Linked DNA regions of Homo sapiens: region 1 is linked to region 2. The links come from fine-mapping of genetic effects on gene expression. Tissue or cell type: whole blood. Region 2 holds a variant in brackets; the other region holds the start of a gene. All regions are shown on one strand. Distances are from middle to middle.

Region 1 (10,639 bases), 30 kb after region 2:
CTCTCTTCTCCCCTAATACCTCCAACTCTACCAAGCCCATAGCACAAGCAGGAAAGGGATGATTAACTTTGTTTTATAGACAGAGAAACTGAGGCCAAATCCCCACTTCATACTGCAAGGTACAGGACTACCAAATACCCTGTGTGCCTTCTTGCTCACGCTCAGCCTCCACCAGGAGTGCCATCCTAAGACCCTTCCTGTTGGCCTAACTCATCCTTTAACCAGGTAAAGTCTGTCCACACAAGGGAATAATATTCAGCTATAAAAGGGAATGAAGTACTAATACATGCTACATGCTACCGTGTGGATTAACCTGGAAAACATTATGTTAAGCGAAGGAAGCCAGATTCAAAAGGTCATGCATTCTATCATTCCATTTGTATGAAATATCCAGAATAGGTACATCCATAGAGACAGGATGCAAATTGGTGGTTGCCAGGGGCTGGGGTAAGGGGAAATGGCGACAATTGTGTAATGGGTATGGGTTTTGTTTCGGGATGGTGCAAATGTTTGGGGACTAGACAGAGGTGGTTGTTGCACAGCACTGTGAATGTACTAAATGCCACTGTTCACTTTAAAATGGTTTATTTCCTATTATGTGAATTTCACCTTAATTTTTTTAAAATCCAGCTAACAGGGCATCTCCTGCAGGAACCTTCCCTGGCACCTCACCCCAGGGCCAAGCACTCTTCCTCTATGCTCCAGTGGCCTCCTGAACACACCTCCACACAGCACTCACTGGGCTGCAGTGAATCAACATGTTTTCACATGTCTCCCCTGGGAAAACATCTTATTTGCCCCTCCATCCCCTGTGCTTCACACTGTGCCTGGCAGATAGGAGAGAGTGCCTAATGTGGTCGGCCAAAGGAAGATCAGAACCAAAGCCTAGTTCTCCTATCCCGACTCCGACCTCTCTCCCTTAATGATGATTATCCCTCAGAATCCGAACCATCCAGCTAACATTTACTATGTGCCAGGAACTGTGCAACGTGCTTTCTCTATTATTTCATTTAATCCTCATAACCCCAAGAAGTAGGGCCTATTATTAATTCCATTTTACAGGTGAGGCTTCAAAAAGTTACCAGTTTTGTCTGATGTCACGGAATTAGACAGTGGCAAAGCCAGAATTTAAAAGCAAACCAGGGAAGAAAGCCACTTGGTGGGGGACCAGGGATTCCTTGTGGAAGGGCTCAGTCTAGGCTTGGAGGATGTGCCTTAAGACACCTAAGAGGCTGGGGAATGGGGTTTATTACTTGCCCAGATCACACCACTGTTAAGTACTAATTCCAACCAACTCTGACTCCTTTCTCTGGCCTCACAATGTGATGAACACTTGAGGGAAGGAGAAGACTGGAGTTCCCTAAAACTCAGAGGGGATCAGATCTCTTCCTTTTCCCTGCCAAAGCTTCTGTTAGTCAAGTTCCCTCCCCATTAACTGGAAGGACCTGGAAACCAGATGAGCAGATAAAAAACTGTCCTGCTCTAGGGCCAGGGAAGGGGGGATATTTCCTCAGATCTAAAAGGATCAGGAGGAGAGGCAAACACACCAGAGAGGCCTGCCCCGGAAGAATTAGAGGAAATAGAAGTCAGGAGCAAGACAATGGGTGAGGAGGGGCCAACGTGGCCACTGACTCCCAATCTGGAAGTACTTTCAGAAATGGCATTTCCTATTATCTGACCACAATTCCTCCTCTTTGGAAGAGAGCCCCCACCAGCATAATATATCATGCATGTGATCAGCGTATACAGAGCAAACAAGGGACCCCAGAGGGCCAGGGCACACCATCTTAGATGCAAGTGCCTTACTAGCCCTGGGAGCCCTAACTATCAGACAGGTGTTGGGTTTGGGGGAATGATCCATTAAAAAAAAAAAAAGGTCTTTTAAAGGTCTTTTCCTACTCTGCCCCGTTCCCCGTTCCTCGTTCAAACATTTTCTAACCCCTACTACTCTTATCTCCAGGCCTTAGGGAGGGTAGGGAGCCCTGAGGACTAAAGAGGGAACATTCCAATTGCACATGCCCATTAGAGACTCTAACATTCCAATTGCAATTGCCCAGAGACCATAATGGGTATGTACAATCTCACCTCAGCTCTTAAAACTGGGTGCCTCAACCCAGCCACTGGCAGCAAAAAGAGTGTGCAATGGGGGAAGGCTAGTATCCTAAAGAAGGAGGTGAGCAACCCCTTTCCTATACCCCAAAAGAGAAAGGATGAGAGAGGACAGGGAGAGAAGGGAGCTGTGGCTTCTTGGTGGAAAGAGACATTCACTTCCTGGATAGTCACTGACTTCCCACCACACTATCATGATGATGAGTATAGCAGTATAGCCTGCAATGGGTACCTGGCCCTTTCCCGACACACAGACACTCAGCCCTGGCCCCACACCCACAGCTCCATCTCAATCATGCTTGACACCAGGGAAAAGGGAAACTTTTTGGTCTGATAAACCACACAGACTCACTTGCAAAAGCTGCTGAAGAAACACCCTATGCCACCTTCTCAACCCCATGGGCAGGGAACCCAAGCTGTTCCCCACCAGGTCTCAACCCTCCAGACATGCTTCCTCCTCTTGTTTCCATCCCACACCAAAATCTCAAGACTCCTCAGGAACTTTAGGATCTTAGAGTCAGGGCAGAGTTAGAAGGCTATGAAGCAGCAAACTCTGAGACGGCTTTCCAAGAGAACTGTGGCCTGAAGCTTTTACCTAAGGCTGGGAATCCAAGAGTGTAGCTTCTCCAAGCGCTGGAACCCAGCCTATGACGATGGGGGAGGAAGTTCCTCTTATTCTTCTCCCTGACCCCGCCAATCTTCCAAATTCCTCTAGGACTACAACCAGACCCCTTGTTCCCTATTCCCCACAACACACGCCCTCTTCCAGAAAAACCCATCCCCCAAAAACAGGCACTTCATAAGACAACTCATTCCCTCCCACCCATAGGTCTCAGATACTTAAGGTACTACCCCTAAACCCAGGCGAGGCCATCCACGAAGTCTCAAAATCCTGCAGACAGCCTTCTTTTCGGGATTTTTGCCAGGAAAATCTGCCTGCAGAGTCTAGAGGTACCCCCGACACACACTCAGAAACATACATACCAGCTAAGGCAGGCACACACATTGATACCCATCAACACAGGTTACACACAAGAGAACACAGATTCACACCCCTTCCCAGTACACAGGTGCACACACACCTATCCACATACACTCCATTCTGCTCTTACACACCCACCTTCCTCAGTACCTACACACCTCTTTCCCGTGAACCCCTCTCCCAGTACACACACATAGACATACACGCCCTCCCCTAAGTATACATATAAACACATATCCAAACACACAGCAGATGCATGGTCAGCCGCTCCCTGGGTGCACACACACTCAAGCACAGAAAAACACCTACACATCCAAACCAGGGGCCCACCTGCAGGAACATGCAGCACGTCAAGGCGTGCACACACACCAAAACAAAGAATCATGCACACGGATCCTCCACCAACCCTTCAAAACTCACTAACGCAGAGCCCACAGTCCCCCAGATGGGTAAATATGAGTGGGGAGAGGGATGCCAGCGCCTGTCCCCTCGGCCCCTATACACAGTCTACCGCCTCCAGCCCCATCCTCGGTCTGTACATACACCCTATCTACTCTGCCCAACCCGCCCCCCTGACTCCACTCTACACCCTTAACGCATACCTGCCTCCGTCCCTCCCCACGCTCCTGAGGGGTGTATGCACCCCAAAACACCCTTGGCTTCCAATACCTCCAGACTCCGATCCTTCCACGCCTCTCCCCCCACCTCCAACACAAGCTCCCCGTCTCCGGCTTCAACCGGCTCCCCTGGGATCATTAAGGCCCCCGCCCGGGCCCAGGAAAGTCCCCGGCTCTCCAGGCCTGGGCTCCGCCCCCTCCCCACGAGCCCCTTCCCCTCCCCAAAGTTGGGGGGGGTACTCCGCTGTGCAGTGGGGAAGCGGACCGGAAGGGGGTTGCCCGGAGTCCAGCCCCCCTTCCCCCATAAGCCACCCCGCTCGCTCTGGGGTCGGGCACCCCCTGGCCCCTTGCATGATTTTCCTCCTTTTCCATTTCTTTTTTTCTCTCTCTTTCTTTCTTCTTTTTTTTTCAAACTTTGCCCGCGCCCCCGCGGCCCGGCACTCACCCGCCGCTGCGAACTGCCGGGTGGGCTCCGCGGGCGCCCCGCTCGGCCCGTCGCCTTTGTATCCGCAGCGCTCCGGGTCGCTCCGAACTCGGCGCTCCTGGACAGGCAGCGCGCGCGATGGGGGATGTTGAGGGGGGGGTTCTTGAGTCTGGTCACCCCCTGCTCCGTCCCAGACCGCTGCCTCTTCCCCCTCAAGGCCCCGGGGGCTGGGGGCCAGGGGGGAATAGGGGGCGCTCAGGCTCCCATGGCGGGACCAAGGATCAAGGAATCAAGGATCAGGAATCAGATCGGGAGCCGGCGGCGCAGGGGGGAGGGGGCGGAGGGGGAGGGGATGAGGGTGGGGGGTGCAGGGGGCGGGGGAGCGCGAGCTCCCGGGTGCCGCCTCCCGGCTGTTCCCACAGCCGCCGCCCCTCCTACCGCCGCGTCCATTGTCTGCGGCCCCGCTCTTCCCGGAGTCGCCGCTCCCCCAGCCCTGCGCCTTCAGATGCCCAGCGGCCCTCCCCGATCCTGGGAATCCGCGGTGGGGCTGACACTCGGGTCCCGAACGGTGGGCAGGGGAATGCCTCGATTCTTGGACTTGGCCCAGCCCGCAGTCCCTCCTGGGGCTGTCTTCCTGGACCCCTCCTGTCGGAGAAGGAGCCCCCAGATCCCTGGGGCTGGCCATATTCTCTTTAGGGCCACGGACCCGACTACACAAAATCCAATGGAATCTGGGACGTGGGAAGATTGATTTTTTTTTTCCCCCTAGGGGTCCGAGAAGGGAGGGTCATCCCTGATTTTAATTAGTGGCGAGAGGCGCACGCCTCTTCCCATGCATACGGGGATTTCCCTGACACCATCACCACCATATCCCCTCCTTCCAAAAATAATTTAATTACTTGGAGTTCTAGCTGCGAGCAGCGACCGCCCCAGTCAGTCTGGGACGCTCCCTCATTAACACATTTTTCCTCCCCTCTGGTTTGAGTGTTGGGATTAATTACAAAGGGAACCCTGCCTTAGGGAAGAAGGGGAGGAGGAAAAGACGCGGGCGCCTGGGAGTTTGAATGGCAGAGGAGAGGGGGCCTTCTCCCAGGAAACCTCCAAGAGGAAAAATGCCTTGGCCAGTTGGGTCCCCAACCCCAAGCAGGCAGATTGTCCATCCCAGGAGTTTCAGATACTTTAGAGTTGAAGGTGCCACACAGGGATTGTAGGATCTCACAAAATATCCTACACGTTTGGGGCATTTGTGCCTCCCAGTATGCCAAGAAACCAGTTAGGGTTCTTTTACATGTGACCCTACAAGAGTGAACCCACACCGTAAAAGCCTGGGCTGTGGGAAGTCCATGTTCCCCTTGGAGTAAGTGAAAGCAGTATTCAATTATCATTAATGTTATTGCCGTGCAACCCGCCACTTAGAGTAGTATCATTTCAAAAGCATCTTCACATACTTCTCCCTAAGCAGGCCAAGGCCTTTTCAATATCTCAGCCTCCTTCAGTTTCCAATCCTGGCACCTGCTTGAACAACCCTGTGATTAAGGAATCCCAGAGAAAGAGACTCCCAGCCTCTGTTCCTCACTTGTTTGGGAATTTTTGCTCCTCCCTGATGAAAACTATTTCCTGAGACCTAATCTCACCCCTTTTGATGGTTCATTCTAACCTGTCCAAAGATGAGGACAGAACCAACTATGCTGCATTGTTCAAAGATGCAGAACAGTAAAACACACTTCCTTTCTCCTTTGCCCAAACTCTGTCTTTCCTCATCCCCTCCTCCAGTAGTATGGGTAAGCAGGTGACTCAGCATCAAGACTACATGAAATATGCAGAATCATCATTTCAGGTACCCAAGTCCCTGCATGCGTCCAGGCACTCATTCACCTTGTGCCTATCATGTGCAGGCACTGGGCCGCACTGGGGCTCCTGGCAGTGACCACGACCAGGTGTATGAGGGAGTGGCAGGAGAGCTGGGGAAGGGTTAAGGGAAGTAGGGAGGACATGGGTGTCCCCAGCCCTGCCCCAAAGCACACCCCAGTGCTAGGCAGCTAGTGTGTAATTTGACACAGAGTCGGGGCTGCCGTGGCACTGTCTTGACTCTCAGGCAGATTTAGTGTGAATTATCTTCACATGCTGCTAGCCTGTTTCACAGACCCCAAAATGGCCCAAAGAACTGGAAAAAGGGCTTCTGATGCCAGAATTACAGATAATTCCATAGTCTGGCCCCACTGAAAGCTTGAAACCTAAGTCAGGATGTTAACAGACAAGGCTTCCCAATTAACAGGTATCAGGCATCAGGCTAGAATAAGCTTAGTCCCTCCTTTCTCTGACGGTGAGGTTGGGGGCTTTCAATTACATCTCTGCAATGAAAACACTGGATTACAGAGTCCAACAAAAAATTTTATTGGTGTGGTCTGTCCCATTCAGCAATTCTCTGTATTACCTTCTACCTTCACCTCAGGATAGAATCCCATCTGGATTTCACACGTCCCCAAGTCACTGAGTAAGCAAACAGAGACCCAGCTAGAAGGCCCATGTGCCCTATGGTCTAAGGGACCTAGCTTAATTCTTTAGAAGGAAGGAGAGCACTGAAATGACATTCAACTGAGATTTTCCTAAAGGGGCCAACCTACAATAACAGAGGGAGGCCAAGAGCCTGAGGGACAATAGAATGGAACAGATTGGATTTTGTACAGCTCCTGTCCTTGAGGACATAGTCGAATTTCTTAATTTCTTCAAGCCTCAATTTCTGCTTATATAAAAAGGGTCTAATGAGGTAACAGAAGGAACACCCTCCATATACTCATAGTGCCACAGTCAATTCCCAGTCGAGTTTCCCCTCTCTGTTCTGTGCCTAGGATACTTCTCTTAGGAGAGAACACTTCTCTAGGACACTTCTTTCAGTACTCTTCCTCGGGGAAGGAGGCCCCTAGCTAAAAGCCAGGGCCCTCCATTAAAGCCCTTTCAACACCTCACCAGCTCACTAGGTGGAGGTGGGGCTGGTGGGGTCAGATCAGAGGCTTCCCAGGAGCCCTGGGAGTTGGACCCTCCTGGGGAAGATTCAAGGAACTCAAGAAGTGACAGTAGACTCTCTCTGAGGGAAGGTCCAGACTATAGAGAAGCACCTACCTACTTCCTGTGTGGATGAAGCTGTCCCTGGAGGTCAGGCCCAGACCACAGTAGCAAAAGTTAGGTTTTCTGCTCTGATGAAAAGTAGGGCCTTTTTACAATGCTGCTCAGAGAAAGGGAATCCTTGGTACCTTACTCATAGAAGCTTCACACTATAGCAGAATGGCCATCAAAGTGTTTCCATGTAAGCAATTAGCAATTTTAGCCACCTCCCAGGTACAGGTGACTGCAGTAATGTACCCACATGCAGGGCCACAATCACCATCTACTTCCAGCCCTGCTGATGAGCCTGGGTACAAGTTGATCTCCCGGAATAGTTACAGATCTTTCCCCAGCACCCACCTTCCCAGAAAGGCTACTCTCAATGCTCACAAAAGGATTTCCAGACCCAGTCTATATTGGGAAATACCTGGGTTCTGGGTGTGAGGGGTTTCCCCCTTCACTTTTAGTTAAAAAAAAAAAAAAAAAAGAATAAAAGTAGCTCACACACAAAAAAACTTAACTGGTCAAGAACTGTATTATGTCATAGGCTTGTGGTGAAGTGTCTGTCATGTGAGATCCTGATCTCTAAGAAGAAGGACCATGCCTCATTCATTTCTATATCTCTGGCACATAAAATTCAATAAGTTAGCATTAGCTGCCTTCCCTTCTAGCTTCCTTCTCTTTCTCCCTTCCTCATCTATGAAACCTTGACCACTCCCTATTCATCCAACCTTTATTAAGTGTGAGTTTCCTCAAATCCAATCCCATTATCATTAATCTAAAATGTTACCTGCAATTAAACCAGTGGTTGTGAACTTTGACTGCAGATTTTAATCACCTGGGAAGCTTTGAAAACACATCAATGCCCAGGACCATCCCAGACTAATTAAACCAGAAACTTCTGAGGTGTGACCCAGCTATTGGCATTTTTTTTAAGATACCTCAGTGATTTTAATGTGAGAACCACTGAATGAAACTTTCTGATTTCCTTCCTCCTTCTTGGGAAGAATAGACACTCTCCAGCTCCCTTGGCTGGGACTAGGCCCTGCAGGTGTGCGTTATATCCTGTCCTTTCCCACCTCCATCCATTATTCACAATCTCTCCTGTAACCAACTTCGGCCTCTTCACTGATCTTTGCCCAGCAGACATAATAAAATGAAATACCTTCCTCCACTCAGCAGCCTCCTCTTGCTTTAGCCTTCGCTTTTATTTCTTTCTCATCCAACCTTCTTAAAAGAGTAGATTCTTAGGCCAGGCCTGGTGGCTCACACCTGTAATCCCAGCACTTTGGGAGGCTGAGGCGGGTGGATCACCTGAGGTCGAGAATTAGAGACCAGCCTGACCAACATGGAGAAACCCCGTCTCTACTGAAAATACAAAATTAGCCGGTCATGGTGGCAGGTGCTTGTAATCCCAGCTACTCGGGAGGCTGAGGCAGGAGAATCGCTTGAACCCAGGAGGAGGAGGTTGCGGTGAGCCGAGTTCGTGCCATTGCACGCCAGCCTGGGCAACAAGAGTGAAACTCCATCTCAAAAAAAAAAAAAAAAAAAAAAAATGGATAGATTCTTTACTATCTCTCTTCCTCCCTTCACTCCTCAGCTCCTTGCACCCCAGCCATCCTTCCAATGTGTTTTCTACTCCTGACTTCAAATACTATTATTTCCCAGAATTCAGCCTTTGGCCCCCTTACTCCCCACTCCACATGCTTTTCCAAAGCAATGTCATTCACTCCTGTGGCTTCAGTCAGTACTCACTTATGAGTGCTGCTAAATCCAGGTCTATCTTGTGAGCATAAGACTCAAATTTTCAACTTCCTACCATACATTTTAACTTGGATATTCCTTGGGTATCTTAAATGTAATAGGTTTAAAAGGAACAACATTATCTTCCTTCCACCTCTATCCCCTTGGCTTATTCAGACCTTTATCATTTCCAAACATGTCTCATTCCCTTCCAATCCGTCTTCCTCCCATGTTGCCAATGTGATTTTTATGAAAGGGAAATCAGCCTGTCACTCTCTTACCTAAAACAATCCATGGCTTCCCACTGTCTACAAGATAAAGTCAAAACTTTTTGGCACCATACATAAGAAACTTCAGGCCCCAACTCATTCGCCTTCTCCAGGCTTATCTCCTAGTGCTCCCTGTGCATTTAAAGCCCAAACTTTCAACACACGTACATCCAAACTATACGCATCTACTCATTGTTCTGCCAATTTGAGGCTCTATTACTTCTCTGCCTTCTCACAAAGTTTCCTTTGCCTAAAATGCCTTCCTCCTTCTTTCTGCCTGGAAAGTTTTGTTGATCCTTCAAGACTGAACTGTGGCCTCCTCTGCAACTCTTTACCAATTTTCCCAAGCAAAGCTAGATGACCCCACACCCGGAGAACCTCCTTTGTGCTCTCAAAGCTCTGCATACCTTTGTTTTAGCATTTATGACATTGTATGGCAATTTCTTAATAATAATTGTATGGTAATTTCTCAATAATAGCATTTTGAGGTTGGAAGAGACTTTCTGAATTTTACAGATGAGGAAACAGGTACAAAGTAAGTGCCTCATTGCCCAAAGTCATACGGCTAATTAGTGGCAGCCCCAGAACTAAAACCCGGGTCTCCTGACTTACTGTTCAGCAGTCTGTCAACTGCACCACATTTACTGAGCACGGTTTCATCTGAAATAAAGATCATGGTAGTGACTCCTAGCCTTTTGTGGACTTTTGAGACTTTGATGAAAGCTACAAGCGCTCACCAGAACAATGTACACATGTACACACACAGAATTCACATCCATTCTCAGGGCATGCTGGGGGGTATGTGTGGCATTGGTTTAAAGAGAGAAAAATCTAGAAGTAGCAAAACCAGTAAGAAGGCTAATTAAATAGTTTGGGGGCAGGGTGGTGGAGGGGAGTTGAGCCTGGCTCCAAGGCTGTGGGGATAGATAAGGATAGAAAAGAAAGCTCATTGCCGGGCACCGTGGCTCAGGCCTGTAATCCCAATACTTTGGGAGGCTGAGGCGGGTGATCACGAGGTCAGGTGTTCGAGACCACCTGGCCAACATGGTGAAACTCCGTCTTTACTAAAAATACGAAATTAGCTGGGCATGGTGGTACATGCCTATAATCCTAGCTACTTGGGAGGCTGAGGCAGGAGAATTGCTTGAACCTGGGAGGCAGAGGTTGCAGTGAGCCAAGATCATGCCATTGCACTCCAGCCTGGGCAACAAGAGCGAAACTCCATCTCAAAAAAAAAAAAAAAAAAAAGCTGAAATTTGGAAGAGATGACCTGCAGGTGGGATGAATAGGGTTGAGGAACAAAGAGGCATTTAAAATGACTCAGAGGCTTCTGGTATGTATATTAAAGAAGCTGGTCATGCCATACATAAAATTAGGGGCTATTGAGAGAGCA
Region 2 (10,639 bases):
CAAAATCACTAACCTAAATGGAAAAGTCAAGCGAGGAACTGCTTAAGGCAAACCTGCCTCCCATTCTATTCAAAGTCACCCCTCTTCTCACTGAGATAAATGCATATCTGAGTGCCTCCTTCGGAGAGGCTAATCAAAAATTCAACAGAATGCAACCATTTGTCTCTTATCTACCTATGACCTGGAAGCCCCCCTCCTCACTTCGAGTTGCCCCACCGTTGCTTCAAGTTGTCCTGCCTTTTCCAGACCAAACCAATGTTCATCTTACATACATTGACTAATGTCTCATCTCTCCCTAAAATGTATAAAATCAAACTGTATTCTGACCACCTTGGGCACAGGTCATCATGACCTGAGGCTGTGTCATGGGCATGTGTCCTCAACCTTGGAAAAATAAAGTTTCTAAATTAACTGAGACATGTCTCAGATATTCAAGGATCACACTTTCATTCTATACCCATAGCAATTAATGCAAATATTGAAGTACATTAAGTCACCTTATCTGAAACTATCTAAATATGGTAAAACTCATGAATTTCCTCTGTTCTATTGGTCATTGATATGGTTTGGCTGAGTCCCCACCCAAATCTCATCTTAAATTTTTGTTCCCGTAATCCTCATGTGTCATGGGAGAGACCAGACGGAGATAATTGAATCGTGGGGGTGGTTACCCTCATGCTGTTCTCATGATAGTGAGTTCTCACAAGATCTGATGGTTTGATAAGGGGCTGCCCCCTTCAGTTGGCACTCACTTCTCTCACCTGCCGCCATGTAAGACATGCCTGTTTTGCCTTCTGTCATGATTGTAAGTTTCCTGAGGTTTCCCTAGTCATGAGGAACTGTGAGTCAATTAAACCTCTTTTCTTTATAAATTATCCAGTCTTGAGTATATCTTCATAGCAGCATGAAAACAGACTAATACAGTAAATTGGTACAACAGAGAGTGGGGTACTGCTATAAGGATATCCAATTATGTGGAAGTGACTTTGGAACTGGGTAACAGGCACACGTTAAAACAGTTTGGAGGGCTCAGAAGAAGACAGGAAACTTTGGAACTTCCTAGAGACTTGGAGGGCTCAGAAGACAGGAAAATGTGGGAAAGGTTGGAAGTTCCTAGAGACTTTTTGAATGGCTTTGACCAAAATGCTGATAGTGATATGGACAATGAAGTCCAGGCTGAGGTGGTCTCAAATGGAGATGAGGAACTTGTTAAGAACTGAAGTAAATGTCACTCTTGCAACGCAAAGAGACTGGCAGCATTTTGGCTCTCATTCCCTCTCCTGCCACAAAGTGAAGAAGGATGTGTTTGCTTCCCCTTCCACCAGAATTGCAAGTTTCCTGAGGCCTCCCCAGCCATGAGAAACTGAGTCAATTAAACCAGTTTCGGGTATTTCTTCATAGCAGCATGAGAATAGACTAATACAGTCATGTTGGCAAAAAAATTTCTAGCCAAAGATAATTTATATTGGAAACTGCTCCTTCAATTTCTATGGCCTTTAGTGATAAGATCTCATTTTGGCCCTTTTTTTGTGTCATTATTAACGTCTCATGGATCAGTTAAGTTGCATACTGAACTGCTTTTGTATAAACTCCACACGTAAGGCCTATCTCACAACATATCATTTAAGATTCTCATAAAATCACAATTTGATACAGGTGGCACAATTTTATAGCATGAGCAACAATGACCTTACCAAACTATTTATTACATTCATAAAATTTAGACCTCTTAACAATTTTGATCTCTTGCATCAATTATCTTAGAGTTAAGTAAGGCGTGTTTAGGACCCTCAAATTTTCAGGGGTATATTAAGCTTCTTTTAGGGCCTTGCTGCTCAAAATAAGGTCTGTAGAACATCAGCAGCAGCACCTGGTGCTTTATACTGTGTTGCCCCAGAATGCATATGTTGAAGCCTAACCCCCAATTTGATGTTATTTGGAAATGCGGCCTTTGGGAGGTAATTAGATTTAGATGAGGTTATGAGACTAGGGCCCTCGTGATGGAATTAGTGCCCTTATAAGAAGAGACATAAGAAACCTCGCTCTCTCACTCTCTCTCTCTCTCTCTCTCTCTCTCTCTCTCTCTGCCATGTGAGGGCACAGCAAGAAAGCAGCATCCTATAAGCCAAGAAGAGATCCCTCATCAGATCCTAACCATGCTTGCCAGCCCAATCTCGGACTTCCAGCCTCAAGAACTATGAGGAATAAATTTCTGGATTTTAAGACCCCCAGTCAGTCTATGGTATTTTGTTACAGCAGCCTGAGCTGACTAAGACACCTGGGCACCTGTTTGAAATGAAGAAACTCAGACCCTACCCAGACCTGTTGAATCAGGGTCTGTATTTCACATAATCCCCAAGTGATTTGTACACTTGCTATACGCACCATTAAAGTTTGAAAAACTCTATTTTGGGGACCTATTTCAAGACAGAGTAAAAACCCGATGAACATTTCAATTCCAGGAAAAAGGTTGCCCAGGGTCGAATTCTTCAATATGCTCCAAACCAGAAGTACACAATCTCGTACCAGTCACTGAAAATGAATTCTACAAGCTCAGCTTTCCCTGATGATACAGTTTGGATCTGCTTTCACTTCAACTGGATTCCATCTTTGAGGCCAGAGGTACTGTGTTAAGATATAAGTAAACTGACAGAAGACAAGAAGTCCTTCAACAAGTGTTCTTTATTACAGTAAAAACCATCCCAGCCAACCCCACCCTAAAATCACACATTCTTATGTCAAAGAGAACTAACATTAACAGGAACTTGAAAGGAGTGAAAATCTTCACTAAGTTAAATCACATGTTTCCTGACTCATTTAAGTCCCCTCATGCAAATTTTTGGTTGTCACAGTATTATTGATGGACCAACAGAGCTTCAGCTTCCTCTTCAGTGGTCTTTAACAGATTTCCAAGCTCCATAGTGACACTGTTAAGGGATTCAGGGGAAACAGCACACACCTGCATTTTTTTCCCCTGAATCACAAGTACCTATAATACTATCACTTTTATTACTAGAGCGGTGTCTAGAATTAGGTAAAGTTGTGCTTGATGTCTTCTTAGTCAGGTTTTTTTAAATAGAGTTTGTTTGTAATTTATTTATTTATTTTTGAGATGGAGTCTTGCTCTGTTGCCCGGGCTGGAGTGCAGTGGCACAATCTCAGCTCACTGCAGCCTCCACCTCCCGGGTTCAAACGATTCTCATGCCTTGACCTCCCGAGTTGCTGGAATTACAGGCGCATTCCACCAAAATAATTTTTGTATTTATAGTAGAGACAGCGGGGGAGGGTTTCACCATGTGGGCCAGGCTGGTCTCGAACTCCTGATCTCAAATGTAAATAGCCTTTTTAGAGTAGTTTTAGTTTCATGTGAAAATTGAGTGGAAGGTACAGGGATTTTTTATACATGCCCTGCCCCCACACTTGCATGGACTCTCCCATTATCTACATCCCCCACCAGAGTGGTACATTTGTTCCAATTAATCACTCAAAGCTTATAATTTACATTAGGCTTCACTACTGGTACTGTATATCCTATGGGTTTGGAAAAATGTATAATGCCAAGTATCCACATTTATAGCACATACACAGTAGTTCCACTGCCCTAAAAAATCCTAAAACCACATACTTTTAACCACATACTTACCCTAAGTGAAGCAGCAGCATGACCTAATTGTGCCCAAAAGCAAGAAGGGACAATACACAACCGAAGATCTCATACTCCTAATTTTTTTTTTCTTTTTTCTTTTCTTTCTTTTCTTTTTTTTTGAGACAGAGTTTCACTCTTATCACCCAGGCTGGAGTGCAGTGGCCCAATCTCGGCTCACCACAACCTCTGCCTCCCGGGTTCAAGTGATTCTCCTGCCTCAGCCTCCCAAGTAGCTGAGATTACAGGCATGTGCCACCACGCCCAGCTAATTTTTGTATTATTAGTAGAGACGTGGTTTTACCATCTTGGCCAGGCTAGTCGCGAACTCCTGACCTCAGGTGATCCACCCGCCTCGGCCTCCCAAAGTGCTGAGATTATAAGCGTGAGCCACTGCGCCCAGCCATACTCCTAATTTTTATAACCTTATAACCAAAGTCATTCCCCTTACAGGATATCAGAGTACAGATGGCTATTTTTGACAAGTGACATCAAAATAGTTTACATATCAGGCTCAATACCCTCACACACTGTTGGCTTCAGTCTGCCTTTTACAGATGGTATTTACCACCTCCAGGAAAATAGTGTGCTTCCTCGGGTTGCCTACAACATATGACAAAATAAAATTTCCCAACTTATCTAGCAAAAGTCCCATGAGCTCCAAGGGGAGGGGGCCAATGTTTTATTTATCTTTGTATCACAATGCCTACCACACAGTAAGTGTGCCCCCAAAACTTGCTGAGATGAAATGAGAGAAGCCAATGCCTTGGCCAGGTTTCCCAACTCTAAACCAGTACCTTCTCCCACTATTCTACATACTCAAATGTGGCATTCACTGTTATGAGCAGGTAGGATGTCATGTCTGCCCTGCCGTTTGTACCAAGAGAAATGGACCCCATTCTCAGCCTGAAAAGAAACTGGGGAGCTAGACAGGGATGACTATTCTCCAAGATTTACTATGTAGGTGGTCCTTTATTATCTCTCTAGCATCTTCCATGACCATGTGTACACTAATGCTGCAGTGCTTTTCCAAAGGCTGACTTTCCCCTACCCCAGCCTTCCTGGCAATTGGAAGAGCATTACTATCATATGCTTAAAGTAACAAAAAAGCCAAGGGTTACCTTAAGCAAGCTGACTTTCAGTCTGTAGAAGCCATTAAACTATCCCAAACAAACAAAAAAAAATAGTAACAAAAAAATTAAAATTAAAAAATAAAAAACTAATAACAAATCACTGAGACCTTGGTCTAAAGATCTTTATGTCTCCTCAGCCAGAGCCCCAGCCCCCAGTTCCCCCTCTCGGCTGTATTTCAAAGGCAAAGGCTAAAAAACAAAAATCACACATGGGCAGCATATGTAATCACATATAATCACATATAATGTCATGAAGTCCCAGGCATGACCCTGACAATCCACCAAGCTGGGTCCCTAACTTCAGTGCTATGTGAAGAACTTCTGTGGAAAACACATCCTTTCAAACAAAAGTTACAAATACCCTTTGCTGCCTGACAAATGGTCAGGATTATCACTTTTGCTTGCAGCAAACCTCTAGAGAAAATATGATCTTATCAATCAAATATTGAGGTCTGGCTTTAAATCTATGAATTCCTGGGGCCAGCATTACAAGAGGAGGTCCCTGAGGTTAACTAGCCTTCTCAAGGGTCCACCAAGGTTAGCTCAGTGAGGGCAGGACCATATCCAGTATCTTTACCAGAGAAAGTACTTTAGTATCAGGCTGGGAACATCATAGGCACTAAATAAAGAATAAACTTAAAAGGTGTTTACTATACTTGGCTGTTGAGAACAAGAATAATTTCAGAGGCATGCTAAGGTAGAAATTTGGTCACAATGTAAGTCACAAGTTGACTCTGAAATGAACTGGAAACAGCAAGTGAAACTATTCTACAAACCTAGTTACAGAAAGAACAGAGCCGTGAGAATGGGGATGCAATTTCAAGGGAAGTATTTTTGTTTGTTTTCACATGAGAAAGACTGGAGTGCAATTTTAAAGGGAGAAGCAAGTATATGATCCCTTTCATGAGCCCCTATTGTATTGTTAGTTGTTCAGTTCATTATTCATGCAACAATTTTTTATTGAGGACCAACTATATGCGAGGAACTGGTTTCAATTCTAGGAATACTTAGATGAACAAAATGTAATCTCAAGGTGAGTGTGTTCCCCCATCTTGAGTCTTAAACAAACTTCCTAGATTTCTTGAAGGAAACTCCCCGAGCTCCTTGGAATCCAGCCAGGGTTTGTCTACACTCTGCCTGAGAACACGCCATGAAGCCTTGCACTAGGGTCACCCAGCCTGTCACCCCTGTAAACTGGGTCATCCTCCAGGATGGAGCCTCTCTTGCCTTTGCATCCCCAGAGCCTGGCAGAGTATGAGGCAGGGGAGAGGAGGAGGAAATCTAGTGAATAGGCCACCTCCATACAGAAATGCTTGTTTTTAACCTTAGCAGGCTGTTTACATGCTAAGCATCTTGCCCAAAGTCACAGAGGTCAGGCCCAGGTAAGACTGGGAGAAGGGACCCAATCTCTTGAGGGTGATTTTAGTACCTGATTACATGCATTACAGTGACAACAGAGCACTGAACTCTCTACATATTTAGAACTAATATATATACTACAGAAACTTGTCTCAATGAATTGTGATGGGCTGTCACCACTGACTGAAATCTCAACTATCCCCTGAAATTCCTATGGCACTTTATGTTTTAGAAATACGTTTTAGAAACCCACTCCTGCCCTAGAGGCCATACAGACACAAGCTTGCTCAGGAGGGTGGACCCAGGAAGTAATCTTTCTTTCTCTATCCTGACAACTACACCAGGAAGTGGTTAAGCCCTCACATTGTTGTTTCTCTCTCTTTAGAATCAGGATTCAGAATAAGCAATTTCCTTTTTCATTTTCCCATTTCTCTCCAACACACCCTGAAGGCCTGCAGAGCAATGATGAGCTCACACTGCCCC[C/G]TCCTGCCCATTCCCTCCCTAACAAGGAATATATTCATTATTCCCTGGCCCTCATTTGCTCCCATTCCTGTAAAGAAAGAAAAGCAACAGAATGCCCCCACAAAAGTCAAATGTCTTTATTTTATATAAAAAAAATTTGTACAGTTTTAGTTCCTATGTTTAAGAAAAAAATCCTAAAATTGCCGTAATGTTTAGATCCACTGCAAACTGTAGAAACAAGCTTTTTATATATTAAAAAAAATTTACATTTTACAATTTTCTACATGCATGCACAAGGTCTCAGCTCTGTAACCCCACCCCCCCAAAAAAAAGGAAAAAAAATCTAGATCCAACAGTGGAAAATTCTACATTTACAATCTCACTTGGAAGGGACTCAAAAAGCCCTCTTCCTTTTGCGCACGGAAGAACAAATCACAACAATCACACACCAGGACTGAATCCATCAGCAGATACTGCCCTGTGGGAAGGGCAGAGGAAAGAGAAGACAGACGGACTGACAGACACCACAGAGGAACAGGGGAGTTAGCCTGGGACCAATGGAGGAGAAGTACGAACCCTGGGAAAAAGACGTGTCAGATGAGAAAGTTCCGGAGAGTCCGATGTCTCATCGCAGGTGTTACATCATCAGGGTTTGCCATTGGAATACTGAGTGGAGATGGGAAAGAGAAAAGTTAAGGGCTGAAATGGGAGGGGAATGGGAAGAAAAAATGAGAGACAAGAGGGAAATAAGAAAAAACAAAGAGAGCACAAAGACCAGTTTAGGAGAAAGGACCAATGGGGACAGTGGCAGAGTGGCGAGGTAGGTGAAGGACTGAGGCACAGCGTCCTGTTGTGGAGGGAGGAAAGGCAAGCGTTCCGAGGTGGTGAAAAGGAAGGCCTGCTAGGCACGGTGGGGATGAACGAGGATGCCATGAGTCACACAAAAGACAGTGCTGGTGAGGCCCAGCCACAGCAGCCCTATGGTGTCAAGGGGGTAAGAGGTGGGCATACCCCCACAGCAGGAGAATGAGCAGATCCAGCGCATGATGGGACAGACACAGTGGGGAAACTGCTCAGAGGGACTGAGTCAGCTGCACACCCCACAGCAGTTCACAGCATGGAGACAACTTCCCACAGGGGAGAAGCAGAGGACAAACACATGGCCATATGTCTGACAATTCATCCTGACATTTTAAAAAACAATAGTAATAATAATAATAATAATAATAATAATAATGAAAAAAGACAAAGATACCACAGTTCTGAAGCAAAAGACCAAAATGCTACCATTCTCAGGCACAGCCCTTAGTGCTTAGAGAGTTGGAGGCAAAAAATTTTTTTTAGGAAAGGGGAATGAAAAAAAAATCACAGTGATTAAAAACATGGCAGGATCTTAAAATAAACACTCCCCAGCCCCTAACCTAGGGCAGCAACTAAGATCCCAAATCCTTTCCCTCTCCCCCACCCCAACCTGCTCCTCAGACCACACCACACTCCATCCTGTCCACAAAGGCAATGACCCCAGTCACCATCCAGGCCCTGTTTTCCAGGATAGTGAGGTATTTATGTGACTCAGAAGGGACTCTCTGACACAAAGTTTTTGAAGAGAAGAAAAGAGACAGACCCCCAGAACAGGACATATTTCATACAGGCCTATCTCATAACCCTGGCCCCAGCCAGAGGCCCTGCCTAAGTGAGCTCCACAACCCACCCCTTTGGGGACAAGGTAAGCATTGGCCAATGAGCTCCTCTCTAGCATGCGGTGGGTAAACAAGTGAACTTTTGCAGAAAGGACAGCAGGAGAAACCCCGATCACTAGGCTCCATCATTCCCAGGGCTGGTGCTACACAGAGGGGGAGCCTCCCAGGGGAGACACTGGGGATCTTATCCCAGGATGTGCTCTGCAAGGTAAGTACCAACCAGTCTTTCAGGGAAAAGAAGGGCCTACAAAAGGACACTGTGAGTTACTCAGAGGAATGGCCTAGTCATTGCAGCCATCAGAAAGGTCCTCCATGTGGATCCTGGCTGGATGTATATGGGTACTTCCTAATTCTACTCTCCTTGGCAAAAATGTCTGAGTCAAAGGCTCAGATTTATATTGAAAATATTTATTAGAGGGCCAGCAAATTTTGCTCAAAATGAGATCTAAATTATCAAGAATTTGGATTTGGTGCAAAGACTATGGAAGCTAAAATGGGGTGAGGGGTGAAGTACCTACAAAAGGCAGTAATCCTTGCCCCTCAACCCAATACAGACGGAGCCCAGAGCTCAGAGAATCAGGCAGGGAGAAAAGGGGTGGGGACCCTGGAAGGCCAAGGAAACGAGACCCCTGAGGCAAAGAACTGGACTTAAGGCAGGGGATGAGGAGGAGCTGCCGGCTCTTCCCCAAAAGAGATGAGGCAACAGGTCTCTGGAGTCGAGAGAAGGCGGCAGGACAGGGGTGGCTGGTGACAAAAATAAAAACATTTGTCTAAGACCACAGGGGCTGGGTCAGGGTCTGCAAGCCACTATGTCTGTACAGGAGTCTACATACCATCCTTCACTGGGAAGAGCGGGGACGAAAGTGAGGGTAGGGTTAGGGAGCAGGAGTCAGTGATGGGGGTCTCTCCAAAACCTCAGGGATCTATTCAGCCCTCCTCCTCAGGGGCTGCCTAGGAAGACACATTGGAAGAAAGGTACCTTCCCCTAAGTCCCTGGAAAAGTGGTCACAGAGGGTTTCCACGTGGTTGCCTATGGTCACGTGACCATACAAACCAAAAACATTAGGTGGAGATTTCTGGGAAAAGGATGGGATCCTTCTTTGCTCTAAATATATGTGGAAGCAAATGCTCCTAGCAAGGAGATTTCTAACTCGGGCTGTGTGGCAGGAGTATCCCTGCCCTAGAACCCAGGGTTTGTTGTGGCTGGGGTGAGGGACAGGAGGGCCAGTTGCTGCCCTGGAGGAGTTTGGCACTGTGGCTCTCTGGAGTCATGTCCATGTGCCCCAGAGAAACCCTGTTGGGCCACTGAAGAGAAATGTTTTAAGAACTTGGATTTGTGAGTCGGGGCTCAGGAGGGGAAAGTACAATCAGCAGGGCCCTGTGCCCTTTCAGGAGAGACTGTAATCTGGGAAAAGACTAGGGAAAGAAGAGGGAGAGAGGCACTGATTCCTGCAGGGCCTAGAGTAATACAAAAGTTGTTGGTGAGGTGGGAGTCCTTCCCAGGTACTGTTGACAGCAGGATGGTCTCTCCAGGTTCACATGGGGTAAAATAAGGAAGAAGCGAGGAGAGAAGGTGGGGGTGCGTTAATTCAAGTAAAAAAAAAAGAGCAAGAAGAAGAAGGGTGGCAGGAATGTGGCTGGGCCTGAGAACCAAGCCCCCTCCCACCCCCTCAGGACCCCCCAGAGTTTCCCACTCCCCCTGCTGTTGCACAGTCACACTGAGGTCTCAGACTGCAGCCTCATGACAAACTTGTGTGACTTGGGATCCACAAATTCCTCGGAGAGTTTGAAGAATGGGACCTTCTTGGTGCTGACCACCAGGCTGAAGTCCTGGCGTTTTAAGAGGAAAACGATGCCATCCTTGAGGCCGTTGGTCACCGGCTCCTCGCTCACCAATGTCCACTGTTTGGCCAGCCAGCGTTCCTTGTGGTACTGGATGGTAGGTCCAGCCGCCAAGTATCGCTCCAAGAAGGCCTGAAGTGGAAAGAAGGGGCTGCATAAGAATCTCTGTCATCTACCCACGGTCCTTCATCCCCTAGGTCATAGTTTCCAAAGACAAGAAGGACGTCCCTGAGCTCACTCTATGCATATGAACTAGAACCTCAGAATGTTACAGCAGGAAGGGGCCTGAGATCATCTGCTTCAGACCCTCATTTTATAAATGAAGAAGCCGGAGTGCACAGGGGGATGTGGCTCATCAGGTAGGACTGAACTCGGCTCCCCTGACCCCCATCTGCTGCTCTTCTCCCTGCACCAGGCTGTGACCTGGGCAAGCCCTCCCTCATTCTTCCTTCCTTCCCACACAGCTTGTATGATTCGTGCCAAGCAGGTCTGCACCAGGA

What was found. PIP is the estimated chance that this variant, and not a neighbour inherited with it, causes the effect.
Region 1: VANGL2 starts here. The variant in region 2 is fine-mapped to the expression of VANGL2 in whole blood (TOPMed, PIP above 0.99).

What each region holds. Positions count from the first base shown.
Region 1 is chr1:160,394,384-160,405,022 of GRCh38, reverse strand. It overlaps VANGL2 (VANGL planar cell polarity protein 2), which reads right to left and starts at 4,459. Exons shown (of 8, transcript NM_020335.3): 1 at 4,154-4,459. The region is part of intron 3 of LOC105371466 (a long non-coding RNA gene); the gene reads left to right.
Region 2 is chr1:160,424,750-160,435,388 of GRCh38, reverse strand. It overlaps VANGL2 (VANGL planar cell polarity protein 2), which reads right to left. Exons shown (of 8, transcript NM_020335.3): 8 at 6,719-10,271. The coding sequence ends at 10,011. LOC105371467 (a long non-coding RNA gene) reads left to right here. Exons shown (of 3, transcript XR_922202.3): 3 at 2,463-2,524. Among named protein-coding and RNA genes, the nearest start is that of VANGL2, 30 kb to the right of the region's middle. RefSeq lists an enhancer at 5,292-5,521. The variant C/G (reference allele first, on the strand shown) is at 6,619.